Linked DNA regions of Homo sapiens: region 1 is linked to region 2. The links come from fine-mapping of genetic effects on gene expression. A gene starts in region 2. The other region holds a variant in brackets. All regions are shown on one strand. Distances are from middle to middle.

Region 1 (8,793 bases), 260 kb after region 2:
GGATCACTTGAGCCCAGGAGTTGGAGGCTACAGAAAGCTATGATCTAAGCACAGCACTCCAGAGCAATACCCTGTCTTTAGAAAAAAAAAAGAAAAAGCCAAACAAACAAACAACAAAAAAAGAAAGTGTTAAATCCATAAGATGTCCGCGTATGTAGGAGCCTCCCAGCTCTCTGATCCTGAAGCCGTGAAGGGAGGCAGGTAGTGTGGAGGCCAGTGCAGCCTCACCTCTGGCAGCTGAGGATCAGGGCAGAATGTGGAATGAACATCCACATCAAAGCTTGATTGCTTGGGTGGCATAAAAATCTCTACCTGTAGGTCAGCCTTAAAATACATTACTTTATAAAGTGATGATGATTCCCCTAATTTGAGGCCATGCAGTTTGTGTTAACTGAGAGAACCATATTGTGTCCTTGATTTAATAAGTAGCCTGCCTTCCTTATTGTATGACCTCTACAGAACTTAGAAATACAAGCTACCATACTAAGCAAATTTCTTTCTCACTTTCTGTCTTGATAAATTTGCCTACTCTGGGTAACCTCATGTGAGGGGAATCATACAACATTTGGCTTTCCTATTCTGGCTTATTTCATTTAGCACGATGTCTTCAAGGTCTACTCATGTTGTAGCATATGTCAAAATGTCATTTTTTATGGTTGAATAATATTCCATTGTATATATGACTTTTTTTCTCTCTTCATCTGTCAATGGGCAGTTGGATGTTTTGAGTCTTCTGGCTTTTGAGTATAATGCTGCTGTGAATATTGGTGTACAAATACCTGTGCAAGTCCCTGCTTTCAGTTTATTTAAATATATATGCAGAGGTGAAATTGCTGGGTCCTGTGGTAGCTCTATGCTTAATGTTTTGAGGAACTGCCACGCTGTTTTCTCCAGCAGCTGCACCAGTTTCCATCCACCAGCAAAACGGCAGGGTTCCAACTTCTCCACATCCTAAATGACACTTTTACCCCCTTCTTTTTATTATCGTTATCCCAATAGGTGTGAGGTGGTGGTACATCACTGTGGTTTGGATTTGCATTTCCCTGATGACTAGTGATGTTGAGCATCTTTTCATGTAATTATTGGCCATTTGTATGACTTCCTTGGGGAGCTGTTCATTTAAGTCCTTTGCTCAGTTTTTAATTGAGTTGTTTGGCTTTTTGTTGTTGAATTGTAGAGTTCTTTATGTCATCTGGATATTAATTCCTTAACAGATATATGATTTATAAATATTTCATTCTGTAGGTTGTCTTTCACTTTCTTGATATTAGTCTTTCATGTGCGAAAATTTTTAATTACGATATAGTGTTATTATCTATGTTTTCTTTTGCTCCCTGTGCTTTTGTTGTCATATCCACGAAGTTGTGAAATTCAACGTTGTAAAGGATTAAGCCTTCATCAACACACAGGATGGATGCCTTTCCATTTGTTTAGGTTTTCTTTCTTTTAACAGTGTTTTGTAGTTTTCAGCATGTCTTTTGCTTCCTTGACTAAACTTATTCCGAAGTACTTAATTTTTTTAGATGCTATTATAAATGGAATCACTTTCTTAATTTATATTTTAGATTGTTTATTATTGGTGTTTAGAAACGCCTGATTTCTGTGTATCGATCTTGTGCCCTTCAATGTTGAATTTATTTACTAGCTCCAGTAGCTCTCTTGTGGATTCTTTGGGATTTTATGCATATAGGATGATGTAATCTGCAGAGAGAGATACTTTTACAACTCTTTCCAATTTGCATGCCTTTTATTTCTTTTCCTTCTAATCGCTGTCTGTGATTTCCAGTACACTATTCAGTAGCAGCAATTTAAGCAGGCATCATTTCTTGTTCCTAATCTTATAGGGATAACTTTCCATCTTTATCATTCAGTATGATGTTAGCTGTAGATTAAAACAAATACCCTTTATCATGTTGAGGAATTTCCCTTCTATTTCTAGTTTTCTGAGAGTTTCTATTATAAAAAGGTGTTGGATTTTGTCAAATGCCTTTTTTTTTTTGCATTGTTTAAGGTGATCATATAGTTTTATTAATGTGATTTATTACATTTATTGGCTTTCTTATGTTGAACCACATTGTCATTCCTGGGATACAGCCCAGGAATGGTGTATCCTGGTTATGGTGAATACTTTTTTTTTACATGCTGTTTGATTTTTGAATACCAAAAAAAAAAAAAAGAAAAAGAAAAAAGAAAGAAAAGAAATGCAGCTCCTTTAAGTCTCCTAAAGGCTGCTTCAGCCAGTGGGTTTGAAACAGTGATGGGCAGCTTCTGTGTACCTATCCCGGGCAATCAGAAGCAGCAATTTGCAGTCAGGACATAGAACCCTGATAAAGCGGAGGCAAGGTTCTATTGCCAAATGTGGCTCCAGCCATCTGCCCTAGAAACACAGATTACTTTCTCTACACTTGTTGGCCGTGAGCCTGGGGCTGGGTAGCCACTGTTATGCTGAAGCCTGAAGTTGGTCCACATTAACTGCACTTTACCAGCTAAGCTTTTTCCCTGGTAGCTGGAAGTGTTCAAAGAGACCTCAGAGTTCTAACAGTTACTCCAGAGAGTCTTTTTTCAGTACACTATGGTTGTTGACTAGGTGGAGACACACATTTCTGGCACTTTCTACTTTGCCATCTTTCCTAATGTCACTTCTTGTTATCTTTTCATTTCTAATGTTATAGGCAAATAATCAGAATTTGGTTTGGAAAATCTAACTAATTTAAATGTTTAAGGTTATCTATATAATATATATATTTCATGGATCTAAGAAGATGAACTAAATGCGTTTTTGAGGGGTTTTAGCTTTACATGGTTTTAGTTCAGCATTTTATATGATTCCATTTTCTCTTTTTTAGCATATGAGACATAATTCTTTGTTTCCACTTTTTTAGTGGTTGCTCTAGTATTTGCAACATACATCAATAATTAATCCATGCTCACTTTCAAATGACATTATCCTGCTTCCACAGTAGTTTGAGTACCTCATAGTAACAAAAGATTTCTAATTCCTAAGCATAATGTGCTTAATATAACTGTGTTTTTCACCTTTTTCTAAATTGTAACTTTCTCTTGCTAGCTGGACACCATATATTAAGTAAAAAGAACAGCTTTCAACATGTTGCGGTAAAACGTTGGAGAGGGGAAGCATTCCACAGTTCTGGGATGTGGTCCCAGTCTTTCAGTGAGCCTGTGCCTTTGGACTGTGCACTTCACAAGTGTGTCTCGGTCTTTCTCCCTCTCAGGTTGAACAGGGTGGCTAGAGGGAAATGGAGTTGGGTATTTCCCTTCCTCTAGGCTAGTTAGGCTCAGCTAAAACCCCAGCAGGTTAGGCTCTGGTTAGTCAGTTTTCCTGAGGACTGACCTAATTAAGAACAAAGTGCCATGTCATATTTCAAAGTGGCCCCTTTCCCCCTCCCTGCTGGAAGTCCAGAGGGATTTTTCTCCAATATTTGCTGTGAGAACCTGGTCATGTTCCTGGAGATAAAACTCACAAAAGCATAGGGGCCCACCTATGACTGGGCCCCCTGGAGTTTTTTGTTTTGTTTTGTTTTGTTTTGTTTTGTGTTTTTTAGTAGAGACAGGGTTTCACCGTATTAGCCAGGGTGGTCTCGATCTCCTGACCTCGTGATCTGCCCGCCTCGGCCTCCCAAAGTGCTGGGATTACAGGCGTGAGCCACCGCGCCCGGCCTGGAGTTTTTAAGCCTCAGACTTTTCCACACTGAGCGTGCAGCAGTTCCTCGATTGCATTTCCGGCTTTCCTACGCTGGCTGTGGCTACTGTGGGGGCCTCTGCTTGGGAGTTTATGCTCCCATATGTTATAATTCTCTGCATTCATCTATCTCTCTCTCCAGCTTTGGAGGCGGTGGTTTGTGCCGTGACTTCACTTCTCTCAGAGATCTCAGAAGAATTGTTGACTTGTCAGTTTGTTCATCTTTTTACTTGTTGTTGGGATGGAGTGTTGACTTCCAAGCTCTTGATGTGCAGAACTGGAAGCTAGAAGTTACAACTGCATTTTTCATTCAAGATTATTTCAAGTTGCTTTGCGGGCGAGACAGCTGGTTTTTCACATTGTGCTTCTTTTTCATCTTTGCAAGTGTCGTATATGAAAAGTAGTTGTCTAGTTTTACATGGTGTTTCTTTGTCATCTTTGTCCTTTTTCTATTGGGGTATTCATATCTTAACTATCAGTTTTGTGAGGTTTCTATGTTATGGAAATATATTGATCTTTATGCATTTCAGCCTTTAATGTATGTCAGTTTCCTAGGCTTGCCAGAACAAATTACCACAGTCATGCTGGCCTAAAACAACAGAAATTTATTCCCTCAGGTTTCTGGAAGCCAAAAGTTTGAAATCAAGATATTGACAGGGTGGTGCTCCCTCCAAAGGCTCTAGAGGAAAATCCCCCCTGGCTGTCTCAGCTTCTGGTGGCTCCTGACATTCCTTGGCTTGTAGCAGCATCATTCCATTCTTGTCTTTCTGTTCACTTGGCCTTGATGTCTCTGTCTGAAAATTTTCCTTCTTTTCTCTGATAAGGACATTGGTCATTGTGCTTAAGATCCACCCCAAATCCAGGAAGACCTCATCTGAAGATTCTTAAGTAAATTGCATCTGCAAACACCTTGTTCTAGAATAATAATATGACAATTTATAGTTACCAGGCTCAGGACTTGAATGTATCTTTTTGGAGGGACACAGTTCAGACCATTAGAGTATTATACTTAGATGTTATCTACTGAAGACTATAAGCTAATTAATCTGTATCTTCTTCTAATACTTTCACATCTCAATCTTTACGTCAGCATGCTTTATTTAGCATTTTAATGTTGTAACTTCCGGAAGCTGAGCCTTATCAGGTCGTTCCCTTTCTTGCTCATCTTACAGCAGAAGGGGCTGCTGTTAATAGGTTTTATTGGTCCTTGAGACCACGGTGACAGCCAAATGTCCACAAGCAGTACTGAAGACATCTGAGCCCCTTTTCAGCAGTTACAATTTTAGGAGAGACTAAGACGTGCCACTTGGAAAGATGTGATGGAGAGCGTAATTTTAAGGCACTGGCTAAATTTGCTGTGTCTGCTACAAATTTTATTGGACTGCTCAGGGGCATTTGTAGTATCCACTATTTTACTCCTACGAAGAGACACTAATATCTGTGTTTTCAGGGGCCGTTACTCGTATTAACTTTAGGAGGTTGGTCACACTAA[T/C]GGGCTGACCACCCTTGTAGAGACATTGGTGGGTCATGATAAAAGTTAAGCTGACATTTCTATCATTCTCTCATGAAACGGATACACAAGACCCACTTTGGTATCTGAACCTGTTGATATCTGGGGCCCAGGGGTTGGGAGCCCTGATGTAATGGAACCTGAGGCCACTTTCAGCATCTGAATCCGTCGATGTGTGTGTTTTTCATGACCACATCATAGCTTTTGGTTTGGTCAGCTGCTTATGTTTGGTTCACATGTAGTCTGGAATACAGTCAAGAGTGTATATTGTTCCTTCAAATAATACAACTTTTATATCAACTGTATAATTTTCCCATAAATTTTAGTATGAGTTATGAAACATAAAACTTACTATTGCTCTGTTACTGATTCTCTCTTAAAGGAAAATGCAAGAAAGTATGTTCCGGTGAAGACCCTCAGCTCTGTTCATTTTCATGATGCAAATGCCCACAAAGGTGGTTTTGACCTGACTGACCCTGTGCAAGGAGGCACAGTCTCCTCACCAGCATAAGCACGTGGCATCAGATGCGGAGACAGTTTTGGACGTGGATGGATGTTTACACACTGAGACTCCTTCAGTGTCCCTTCAAGAAAATGTGGACACAATGTCTCTGAAGCCTGTTAGTGACCATAGAATTAATTTCACTAATACCTTTCGGTCACCGACTCCTGAAAAGAGAACACGTGAATATCATGAGTCCGTTGAAAAAAGACAGTAAGTGGGCTTGAAAAAACAGAATAAAAGAAACACAAGTTTTCATTTTGATCAAGGTTAAAAGGATGCAGTTAAGGAACAGCTGCCTTCCACCTGAATGAGCCACTAGATGCTAAAACACTTTTGCTTGTCTGTAAACATGTGAATACAATTAGGTTTATATTACTTTGAAGAAACTATTGTGTTATCTAAATTTGTAACGTCACATTTGAGAGACTCAGTGATTAAAAACAGCTATTTTCACTGTAGTTAAATATGCCTTTGATTCTGATTTTCAAACAAAAAGAAAATATACTTTTAGTAAAAATGTGTCTCAGAGGAACACTATTACAGTTTTTCCACTTTTATTAAGTGGTTCTCTGCTCACTCCCTTTTTCCCCACCAGAATTGCGGAGGACTCAGGTATTCCTATTAACAGATAAGTTATTCCTTTCCTAACCTCTTTTAAGATATACAAGCACATAGATTCCAAGTACAAACCTTTCAAAGTAGGAAAATGTCCTTCTCAATATATTCCCGTGTTCTCACGGCTTCGATACCCAGGGAATCTTATTTAAATTGGTTCACTGGAGGCAGTACCTACAGGGTATTTATAACAAACATGAAAAATATGTCGCTAGTTATCAGGGATGCAATTTTTCAACAAGTTCTTTGATTTGCTTCATGTCCTTTCACTTACACCTAACTTGATGAAAAAATCCAAGAACATCTAAAACGAATCATGCCCAAATTGAAAGGCCGTATTTGTCCTATCTGAACTAACATTTATGTTGCAGTAGTTCTGTTGCACTTTCATACTGTAATAGGATGTTAAAATCAAATTCTTCCTCTCACTTTTGACTGAGGCTTTTAGATAGATTCCAACCACTTCCAATAGGTGCTAACCACTCCCAAATTCCAAGCTTGTGGTATAAACTTTAAAAGTACATTTAGGTTTTCTCCCGAGTTCCTGACACAGAGCTTCACAAACCCTAGGAATTTCCTGAATAAGAGTGTCTTTCATTACTCATACAAACCCCTTTGGACTATACCTGAATTTATGCCAGCAAGATGGCTCATGGATGTGGGGCGGGGAGATGGGCTGGATGGCTTCAGGATAAAGGCTGTTTGCCAGAAAAACCAATCATGTAATTCGGGGGTTGGAATTTTCACCCTCCCAATCTCTGGGGAGAGGAAGGGGGCTAGAATTGAGCCCAGTCACATGGCCAATGATTTAAGCAATTACACCTATAAAATGAAACCTAGATAAAAACTCAGCAATAAGGCTTGGAGAGCTTCCTGGTTGGTGAATCTATTGATGTGCTAGACAGACAGACCAGTTGGAGAGGGCACAGAAGCTCTGTACCCTGGACCCCTCCAGACCTTGCTGCCCTGAGTATCTCTTCACCTGGCTCTTCATTTGTATCCTTTATAACAAACTGTCATTGTAACTATAAAAAAAGAGAAACAGATATTTGTACATTTTGGATAGGGTGTATATTCATGTGGGCTGTGTCAGTCTTTTAGGTTGGAATATTTAAGTGTTTTATAGTTCAGACAAAATTTCAAATATACTAGTATAGGGAGAATTGCTCAGAAATCGTACCTTTCATCAGAGTTCTAGTGGAAATGTACCTTTCTATGTCTTAGCATTTTTTTCTTTATTTCTCAGTCTCAATTATTGACTTGTTTTCATGAGCACAGCTGGCTTGTCTGCCATAAAAGAGATATTTTCATTTGGGGAAATGGATTTTTCTTTTTCCAACACATTTTGGGCAGATTTCAGTGCTGTTGGTAATTAAGGCAGTCATCTAGATAAAACAATTATGTGAGAATGTCGTATCATTTTAGTTGTTACATGTGTCAATGGATAGTTTTGGAATTCTGTTTTTTAGAAATGAATCTCACACAGAATGTGGTCTATGGAAATGAAGAGGGCAGAGGGGTCATGGACCTTGCCTGTCACACATCTTTTACGAGCAAACAAAATGTGATGAGATGACTGAAGACTTGAGATCTGGTTGTAAGTATATGATGAGCACATTTGTTGTATGGTTTTCATTGTTTCTGATGGTGTTTCTGAGGTTGCCCTACTCAGCCACATCAGATCCCTTTGGGACTATCATTGTATTCTGGAAGCTCTTCAGTTACTTTCATAGGAACCAAGGTTTGAGTGAGCTGGTCTTCATCACGGCAGAAGCCGAACCATTTGTTGAAGCAAAGCCAATGAGTGAGAAGAGCAGTCTTCTACTTCTGTGTAGACCCCATAGTATTGCAGGGCTGGAAGGGACTTTAGGCTTTGCTTGTCCACCTTAAAAATTCTGTCCTGAGCAAAAGAAATGTTCTGGTAAATGAGTCATTATAAACAGCAGCCCATTTTAGAGTAAAGGCTAAGAAGTGTGATAGAAGTGATGGAAGAAAAGTGACAAAAAAGATAAATGAAACCTGAAGGGATAAGAGCATGAAAGGAAGCAGTTAGGCTGCTGATCAGCATAATCTTGACAGTGAAAGTACAACCTGTCTTAGGTCTGCAGAACGGCGGGTCATGGCGTTTTGAGCTTTAGCCTGTGAAGATGCTGTGCCACCAACCGCAGGGCCTGGGCTCCTCTATAACTGGAAGGAGCCACAGTGCTCCTTGGCCTGCCAAGCCCAGCCTTATTGTGAATAGGCTCAGAAGGGGCCATAGGAGAAATTATTCTACCCACCGCTAGTACTAGGCTCTCCCAAATGTCCAGTGCTGTGGAATGACCGCGATAAGTCATGCGTTATTAGAGCCACATGCATTTAGACACAGGAAAGGGACGGGTCCACATGAGAGTTAACATCTTTGGCTCTTCAAGCACAGGCAGCAGCAGGGACAGAGGAAGGGCGGGGCCCTGCGAGCCGGCT
Region 2 (8,900 bases):
AAGGATTGATAACAAGGGTAGCATTATTCCAAGATTGAACAGGCAATTGCTGGGCAGGTGTCATTGCAGAAATATTCTTCGTGCATGGGTGTGACGGCCTTTGTGCAAGATTGTGGTTTCAGACAATCCTTGTTTTTTGTTGTTGTTGTTGTTGGGTTTTTTTTTTTTTCTTGAGACGGAGTTTTGCTCTTGTTGCCCAGGCTGGAGTACAATGGGGCAATCTCGGCTCACTGCAACCTCTGCCTCCCAGGTTCAAGCAATTCTTCTGCCTTAGCCTCCTGAGTAGCTGGGATTACAGGTGTGTGCCACCACACCCAGCTAATTTTGTATTTTTAGTAGAGACGGGGTTTCATCATGTTAGGTTGGTCTTGAACTCCAGACCTCAGGTGATCCGCCCATCTCAGCATCCCAAAGTGTTGGGATTACAGGCATGAGCCACCGTGCCCAGCCTCAGACAGTCCTTGTAATATTTTCTATCATAGGCATGTGTGCATGGGAGCCCCTCATTTATGGCCTCCTGAGTCCATTTTGCTAGGGTTTGGCATAAGTGACTCCAGTTTGATTTGGACAACTTGTGCAGAAGGATGCCCACTTTTGGTATTTCTATTCAACATAGTACTGGAAGTCCTAGCCAGAGAAATTAGGCAAGAAAAAGAAATAAAAGCAACCCAGATTGGAAAGTAAGAAGTATCTCTGTTTGCAGATGCTATTTATTTATTTAGAGACAGGGTCTCACTCTCATTGCCCAGGCTGGAGCGCAGTGGTGTGATTGTTATAGGACAGGGGTCCCAATCCAGACCCCAAGAGAGGGTTCTTGGATCTCACGCAAGAAAGAATTCAGGGTGAGTCCTTGGTGCAAAGCGAAAACAAGTTTATTAAGAAAGTAAAGGAGGGGCCGGGCACGGTGGCTCACGCCTGTAATCCCAGCACTTTGGCAGGCCGAGGTGGACAGATCATGAAGTCAAGAGATCGAGACCATCCTGGCTAACAGGGTGAAACCCCGTCTCTACTAAAAATACAAAAAAAAAAAAAATTAGCTGAGCATGGTGGCAGGCTCCTGTAGTCCCAGCTACTTGGGAGGCTGAGGCAGGAGAATGGCGTGAACCCGGGAGGTGGAGCTTGCAGTGAGCCGAGATCGCACCACTGCACTCCAGCCTGGGCAACAGAGCGAGACTCCACCTCAAAAAAAGAAAAAGAAAGTAAAGGAATAGAAGAATGGCTACTCCATAGACAGAGCAGCCCCAAGGACTGCTGGTTGCATATTTTCATGGCCATTTCTTGATGAAATGCTAAACAAGGGGTGGATTATTCGTGCCTTCCCTTTTTAGACCGTATAGGGTAACTTCCTGATGTTGCCATGGCATTTGTAAACTGTCCTGGCACTGGTGGGAGTGAGGATGACCAGAGGTCACTCTTGTCACCATTTTGGTTTTGGTGGGTTTTGGCTGGCTCCTTTACTGCAACCTGGTTTTTGTTGTTGTTGTTTGTTGGTTTGTTTGTTTTTTGAGACTGAGTCTTGCACTGTCACCCAGGCTGGAGTGCAGTGGTGAGATCTCGGCTCACTGTAACCTCCGCCTCCCGGGTTCAAGCAATTCTCCTGCCTCAGCCTCCCAAGTAGCTGGGATTACAGGCACCTGCCACCATGCCCAGCTAATTTTTTGTATTTTTAGTAGAGACGGGGTTTCACTATATTGACCAGGCTGGTCGCAAACTCCTGACCTCACAATCCGCCCACCTTGGCCTCCCAAAGTGCTGGGATTACAGGCGTGGGCCACCTTGCCCAACACTGCAAACTGTGTTATCAGCAAGGTCTTTATGACTTGTATTTTGTGCTGACCTCCTATCTCATCCTGTGATTTAGAATGCCCTAACCGTCTGGGAATGCAGCCCAGTAGGTTTCAGCCTCATTTTACCCAGATCCTGTTTACGACGGACTTGCTCTGATTCACACACCTCTGACACAATCATAGCTCACTGCAACCTTGACTTCCCGGGCTCAGGTGATTCCCTCACCTCGGCCTCCTGAGTAACTGGGACTACGGGCACCATACCACCATGTCTGGCTAATTTTTTGTAGTTTTAGTAGTGATGGGGTTTTGCCACGTTGTCCAGACTGGTCTCAAACTCCTGGGCTCAATCTATCCACCCACTTCCACCTCCCAAAGTGCTGGGATTACAGGTATGAGCCATGGCACCTGGCTAATAAGCTCTTATCTGCAGAAAACCCTAAATATTCCACACACAAAAAATGTTAGAGCTAATAAATGAATTCAGCAAAGCAGCAGGATACAAAGCCAATGCACAAAAATCAGTTAAATTTCTATGCATTAACAATACGCAATCAAAAAAGAAGATAAAACTTCCACTTACAATAACATCAAAAAGGCCAGGTGTGTTGGCTCATGCCTGTAATCCCAGCTCTTTGGAAGTCTGAGGATGAGAGGATCACTTGAGCCCAGGAGTTGAAGCTGTAGTGAACTATAATCGTACCACTACACTCTAGCCTGGGCAAGAGTAAGATCCTGTCTCAAAACAAAAAACAAACAAACAACAACAACAAAACCATGCAAATGGACAGCAATAAATAAATACATTAATTTAATTAAATAAAACAATAAAAACCCCCCCAAAAACAGTAACATCAAAAGGTGCTCAAGTTGTTACCAATTAAACTGAAAGTTCCAGCTGGGCTTGGTAGCTCACACATGTAATCCCAGTGTTTTGGGAGACCAAGGCAGGAGGATCCCCTGAGGCCAGCAGTTCAAGACCAGCCCAGTTAATATAGCGAGGCCCTGTCTCTAAATAAAAAAATTAAAAAGAAAAAAAAAAAAACACCTGGAAGGTCCCTTCACCCCAACTCCACTTCCACCCCCAACTTGGCGGCACATCTTTCCTTTCGCTCTTCCAGTCCATATTTCATAGTTGCCTTTCAAGTCCCACATTAGAAATAGCAGACAGCCCAAATCCCATGGTGTTTCTTTGCATCGTCTCCCTATACCCCGTGTTTAAATGTCACAGCGCCTCACACACAGTGCTTTGACAGGCCATTTGCCATCTGTTGGTCTCACCGGATTGTAATCTCCGCATGGCCATGGCTGGATTTTATAAAACGTTGCTGTCCTGGTGCTTGGCAAAGCGCAGGCAGGGAGGAGGCATTCAGAGCCTGTTCACAGAGGGCAGCGGGCAGCGTGGAGAGTGGTAGGCTGCCTGGGTAAACCAGGTCTGCCTTTCTCAGGCTGGTTCATACCTAAAGGACATTTAAGGGGCCTAGCTGGCCATCCAAACTCTGGTCGTATGAACTGAAGCCTCCTCAAGGGAGATACACAAAAAAATACACAAAACAACACGGCCTAGTGGGAAAGGACCTGGACTTGCATGAAAAGGTGCGGGGCAGCCTTTCCCAGCCTCAATTTTCCTCTTCTTACAGAGGCGGAGGCTCATAGAATGAGGTGCATGACATCCCAACCTAGGAGAAGAAACTTCTGCAGAATGAATCAGGAGCCAGGTCTGCGCTCCCGAGGCCAGAGGTGGCCTCCTGTCGCAGCTCTGTGCACGGTACGGCCACTCTGTGCCCTGCGTTTCGCCTCCAGGCCGGGCGGGAGCAGTGCCTAGCCCAGGTGTCCTCGACGCGAGCAGCTGGGCGCCGCTGCGGAGGGAGGGAAGCGCCGCGCCGGTCCCGGGCCCAGCGCTGCGCCCAGTCCTGAGGCGCCCTCCTGCGGCCGCTGCTCGGCGACCTCCCGGCCCTGCGGCCCCGCCCCCGCGGTGACGTCACCGCATTCCGGCTCCGCTCCTCCCGCCGCGGCGCCCGCACCGCAGTGACAGCCAGCCGGGCCCGGTGGCGGAGAGGAAGTGCGGTCCGCGCCAAGCCCGTCCCCGCCGACGCCGGCTCCCCCGCGGCTCGGGTGACAGCGTCGCGGCCGCCGGACGCAGCGCGGGGCAGGCGCGGGCAGAGCCGAGCGCAGCGGAGGCTCCGGCGGAGGCGCGGGGAAAATGGCTGATGACTTTGGCTTCTTCTCGTCGTCGGAGAGCGGTGCCCCGGAGGCGGCGGAGGAGGACCCGGCGGCCGCCTTCCTGGCCCAGCAGGAGAGCGAGATTGCAGGCATAGAGAACGACGAGGGCTTCGGGGCACCTGCCGGCAGCCATGCGGCCCCCGCGCAGCCGGGCCCCACGAGTGGGGGTGAGTCAGCGCGGGGCCTGGAGAGGGGCTCAGGGCGCGCACCCGGGGGACCCCGGCCGGGGCCCAGGGGCACAGGGAAGAGAGCCTGCTCTAGGCCACCCGGGGCAGGAGCTGGGAGACGTGGGGAAGAATCTTCTTGGAGATCTCCATGTAGGACTTCCGAGCTGGGGATGAGGCCTCGCCTGGGGCTGTGGATCTGGTGACTCCCGGGACAGGAATTCGGTCATGACATTTCATCCCCAGGCCAGCTTCCCCACTGCCCGGCTCTGGAATCCAACCCCACCTCAGTTTTGAGAGTCCCTCCTGAGCCTCCTAATAGCCTGGGTGTCCCAGGCTCCCAGCTAAGTGTGCAGGTGTGGGCAGAACACAGCCCTCCTGGCCCCTCAGGCTTAGCTCTCTCCTGCAGCTGGGAAAAAAGAGGATCCTGGGTGCTCCAGGAACTCACTAACCTTCCCCGGTGACCGCCTGGCATTCGGCAGTCGCTGGGCTAAGCGCCTTGGTTACATTTAATCACTTCATACACGTGATTGAACCCATTTCAGAGATGGTAAAACTGAGGCTCAAGGGAGTATGCTATTGAAATAACTAGTAAGTGGCAGATCAAGAATTTAAACCTGTTTCTTTTTCTTTTACATATATATTTTTTCTTTTCCTTTTTTTGAGATGGGGTCTCGCTATGTTGCCCAGACTGGTCTTGAGCTCCTGGGCTCAAGCAATCCTCCCACCTCTGCCTCCTAAAGTGTTGGGATTACAGGTGTGAGTCACCACACCTGGCCGTGAATTTAAACCTGTTCCTGTCGGACTTGAAGCCCTCTCCACCTGACCACACTGCCTACCAAGTGTCTGGCTCTGAGTTAGACACCGGAGTGTGGGCCACAAAGAGGCATCAGTCAGATGCGGTAGGGCCCTTCAGGGTTTTGTAGTTGTCGACTTAATGGTTTTCCAAAGGTGGTCCGGGGCTATTATGATTTACTGTGATTGGCTTCAGACCTCAGTGTTCAGGGCCTAGTCCCTGTGAAATCATCTTTATCAATGATGTTTCTGCCCTGGTTCTGGCTAGCAAGAATGATTTTGTAAAATATTTAGTAAAAAAGTAGATATCACCTTCATGGGTACATCCAAAACAGGTTTTACTTCCTGTTGATGTCATTTTGGAAAGGTTTATGGGCCTGTTGTAGTAAGTGCTAACATATATACATATAGACATATTTTGGTTAATGATGTTTACAAGGCTCTTCACAGTCATGTTTGTATCCATTCAACGTTTACTGAGCACCTACTGTGTGTCAGGACGCTGGGGATACAGAAATGAATAAGACAGTTCCTGTGGCTGAGGAGTTTGAAGCAACTCTGTATCTCCTTGATATGAGAAATGTAACCAGGCTTTTGTAACATGCAAGAAACCGGTGGCCCAGAGAATCTGAGTATCTTGCCCAGAGTCACACAGCCAGGAATGACCAATCTAGGACTTGATCCCACGCCTCCCAACTCTGGGCTCCATGCTCTTTCAAATGCTGTGGAGCCTGGGCAACATGGTGAAACCCCATCTCTACAAAACATACAAAAATTAGCCAGGCATGGTGGCATGTAGCTGTAGTTGTAGTTCCAGCTGCTCGGGAAGGCTGAGGCAGGAGCATAGCTTGAGCCCGGGAGGTGTAGGTAGGTCGCCGTGTGCTGTGATCACGTCTCTGTACTCCAGCCTGGGCAGCAGAGTGAGACCCTGTCTCAAAAAAAAAAAAAAAAAGATTCTATAGCAGTCACCTCCCTGGCAGGAGATAGGATGTGGGGTGAGAAGCATGGGGTCTTTTGCCACCTATCTGAGACAGCAATGGAGGGCTTCTGAAGTGGAAGCTTCCAGCACCTCAATACAGAATCTGCCGTGTCCCAGGGAATTCCTAAGAAATGCCTGCCCCAGTTAATGCACCAGTATTCACTGGACCACACCTCTGTGAGACCACCCTTTTCCTCAGTCTGGCTCACTGGGGCCTGTTGGGGTCGGGGTGCAGGGAAGAGGAGGGAGGCCTTGTGGGGAGGTCCTGCTGAGGGGAGCCATTGTGAGAACCTCAGGAGAGAAAAGATGGGATTCAGGCTGAGGGCAGCCAGATGCCTGAGGGAGCTGAGCAGGTTGTGGCCTCTCCCAGGATGGTGGGGCTCCAGGGACTTACAGTCTGGATGGCAAGTTCTGTCCTTGGCAGGGGTGGGGCACAAATTGGCCTCAGACCAGAGGTGACAGGGAGAGAAACAATGACACGCTCGCTTCTTCCAGGGAGGTGCCGGGGATACAGCCTTCTGAGGGTCTCCCAGGCGCATACCTGCTGACTCTGCAAAGGCTCAGCTGCCCTCCTTAGTTGGATCGGGGAGCAGGGAGGTGTTGAGGGATGGCGGCTCAGTGGATGGCCAGATGGGCTAGAATTGATCTGACCTTCTCAGCCTATGCAGTGCTGAACAGGTAATCTTCCCCTGACCAGGGATGTGTGCCAGGAGCCTGGATGGGGCAGAGAAAAAGCGCCCTGGCCTGCTGAGAGCTGGGCAAAAGCTGGCTTAGCAGCGGCCGCCAGTCAGTACCTCTGAGGCACCTTCTCTTAGATGTTGGGGTCCTCAGATTAGCAATCTCTGTGCTGACACTGGGCTCAGTTGCCCCTGGGGAAAGAGGTATCTGGTGTAGGCCTGTGCTGGAGCCACAGGGAGCCCCTCCTCTCTGGCTGGATCTGTGGCCCTGGGTGATCTGGATGATGGACACTTTGTTTCCATTCATCAGCCTTGGGTAGGTTTCCATTTTCACACCCAGTTTTCTGAGCACCAGGCCTGGCTCTGACTTGCCTGTCAGTTCTGGGCAAGCCCATTTCCCCCGCTGGGCCTCGTAAGCTCACAGGAATGTTCTGGACCCTCTCTGCCCTTGTTCCAAAATGGGTCAGGCAGCTGAGGGAAGCAAACCCTCAGGGGTTTATCCCTGGGACGTGTCTCTGTCTCAGTCCTGTTCTGCTGGCCTGTGAGTGTGGACTCCCGGTGGTAGATGGGCAGTGGGTGGGTGGAGAGCACTGTGGGAACAGGTACTTGGAATGCTGTGTAGGTGTGTGTGGACTCTTAAGGAGGCCGAAACTGCATGTCCAGAGGAACACTCTCGAGGCTGAGGCAGAGAGACTTTCTGAAGGTCAGGGTAGACCCCAGGCAGCTGTGTGTAGATGTGGGGTCTGAGACTGGGGTTGGTCAGGGCGGAGTAGGGTGGTGCAAATTCTCGAGAAGGCCAAATGTACAGACCGGCATCACAGGGAATAGACCCTGGTAACGTGAGGCCCTGCTAGAGGAGACACCCCAGCAGAAGAAGCCCCTTTGCAGAAGATGCTGCCACTGAAATGCTATTGGTCCCACTGTGATTTAGGGGCCAGGACACCCATGCAGGAGAAGCCTTATCTGAAGGAATGGGAGTGACAGCTGACAGAGTTGGTTGGAATCAATCACTGGTTGACTCTGAAAGCAAAGTCAATTATGATTTATGTCACCCGGGGATTATTTCCATGGGATTAAGTACCCTTCCCTTGAGTCCCCAGGCCAAACACACTGTCGCTGCTCACAGCCCTGTCTGGCTGGTGAAGGGCTATTTGTCCATCTGCCTATTAACCTCATGTGGCCTCCATGGCTTTTTGCTAGGAGGCACAGCAGTTTCTGAGAGCCTTGCAGATAACAGCAGGCCTCAAAACAACAATTCAACTTCCATTTAGCCAATAGTTACTGCTCACCCATTCCGTGCTGGAGCCCTGAGGAGCTGAATAGGACACGGAGCCTGGTAAGGGGGTACACACGGACCCTGGGGGTCATGAGTAATTGCACAAGAGGGTGCAGGATACTGTATGATATCCTGGGATACCCCGGAAGTGAGACCTTCCGTAAGTGCCTAGGGAAGTAAAGGAAGCAGAGGAGGGCTTCCCAGAGGAGGTGACTTATGAGCTGGACCTTGGAGAATAAATGGAGCCAAAAAAGCATTCTTTTTTTTTTTTTTTTTTTGAGATGAGTCTCACTCTGTCGCCCAGGCTGGAGTGCAGTGGCGGGATCTCGGCTCACTGCAAGCTCCGCCTCCCGGGTTCACACCATTCTCCTGCCTCAGCCTCCCGAGTGGCTGGGACTACAGGCGCCTGCCACCACGCCTGGCTAATTTTTTGTATTTTTAGTAGAGACGGGGTTTCACCGTGTTAGCCAGGATGGTCTCGATCTCCTGACTTCGTGATCTGCCCACCTCAGCCTCCCAAAGTGCTGGGATTACAGGCATAAGCCACCACGCCCGGCCCAAAAAAGCATTCTTTAGAGAGGGAAGCAGGAAGAAAGCATGGGGATGAGGGTGGTGTGTTTGGAGAAGGAGGAAACCAGAATTTAGGGTTTGTGGGATGGGCTGGTGGGAAGTGAGTCAGGAATGGGCAGGGCCAGATTGTAGAGATCCTCATGTTCCAGGGTTAGATGTACTTATCTGGCAAATATTTATTGAGTCCTTGTTATGTTCCAGGGACTGTTGTAGGTGGGCCTCATCATGGATGAAACCAAGTCCACACCCTCATGGAGGGTCTGTTTGTTGGGGGAAGACAGATAATAAACACATACACAAATAAACACAGCAGGCTGTAGTAAGTGCGCTTAATACTGCAGGAGGAATAGGAAGGGGTGCCCAAGGGGTGGATGGGGGTGTGGTCAGGGAGGCCTTTAATTAGGCAGCATTTGAGCAGAAGCTGAAGGG

What was found. PIP is the estimated chance that this variant, and not a neighbour inherited with it, causes the effect.
Region 1: its variant is the best candidate, but not a certain one, in a credible set for the expression of CLTB in whole blood (INTERVAL, PIP 0.85).

The regions. Positions count from the first base shown.
Region 1 is chr5:176,155,996-176,164,788 of GRCh38, reverse strand. It overlaps the pseudogene CEP192P1. Among named protein-coding and RNA genes, the nearest start is that of SIMC1, 78 kb to the left of the region's middle. RefSeq lists a silencer at 3,463-3,703. The variant T/C (reference allele first, on the strand shown) is at 5,193.
Region 2 is chr5:176,411,454-176,420,353 of GRCh38, reverse strand. CLTB (clathrin light chain B) reads left to right here and starts at 3,815. Exons shown (of 6, transcript NM_007097.5): 1 at 3,815-4,177. The coding sequence starts at 3,991. It also overlaps a transcript of ARL10 not described here. RefSeq lists silencers at 3,523-3,982, 4,023-4,122, 4,233-4,312.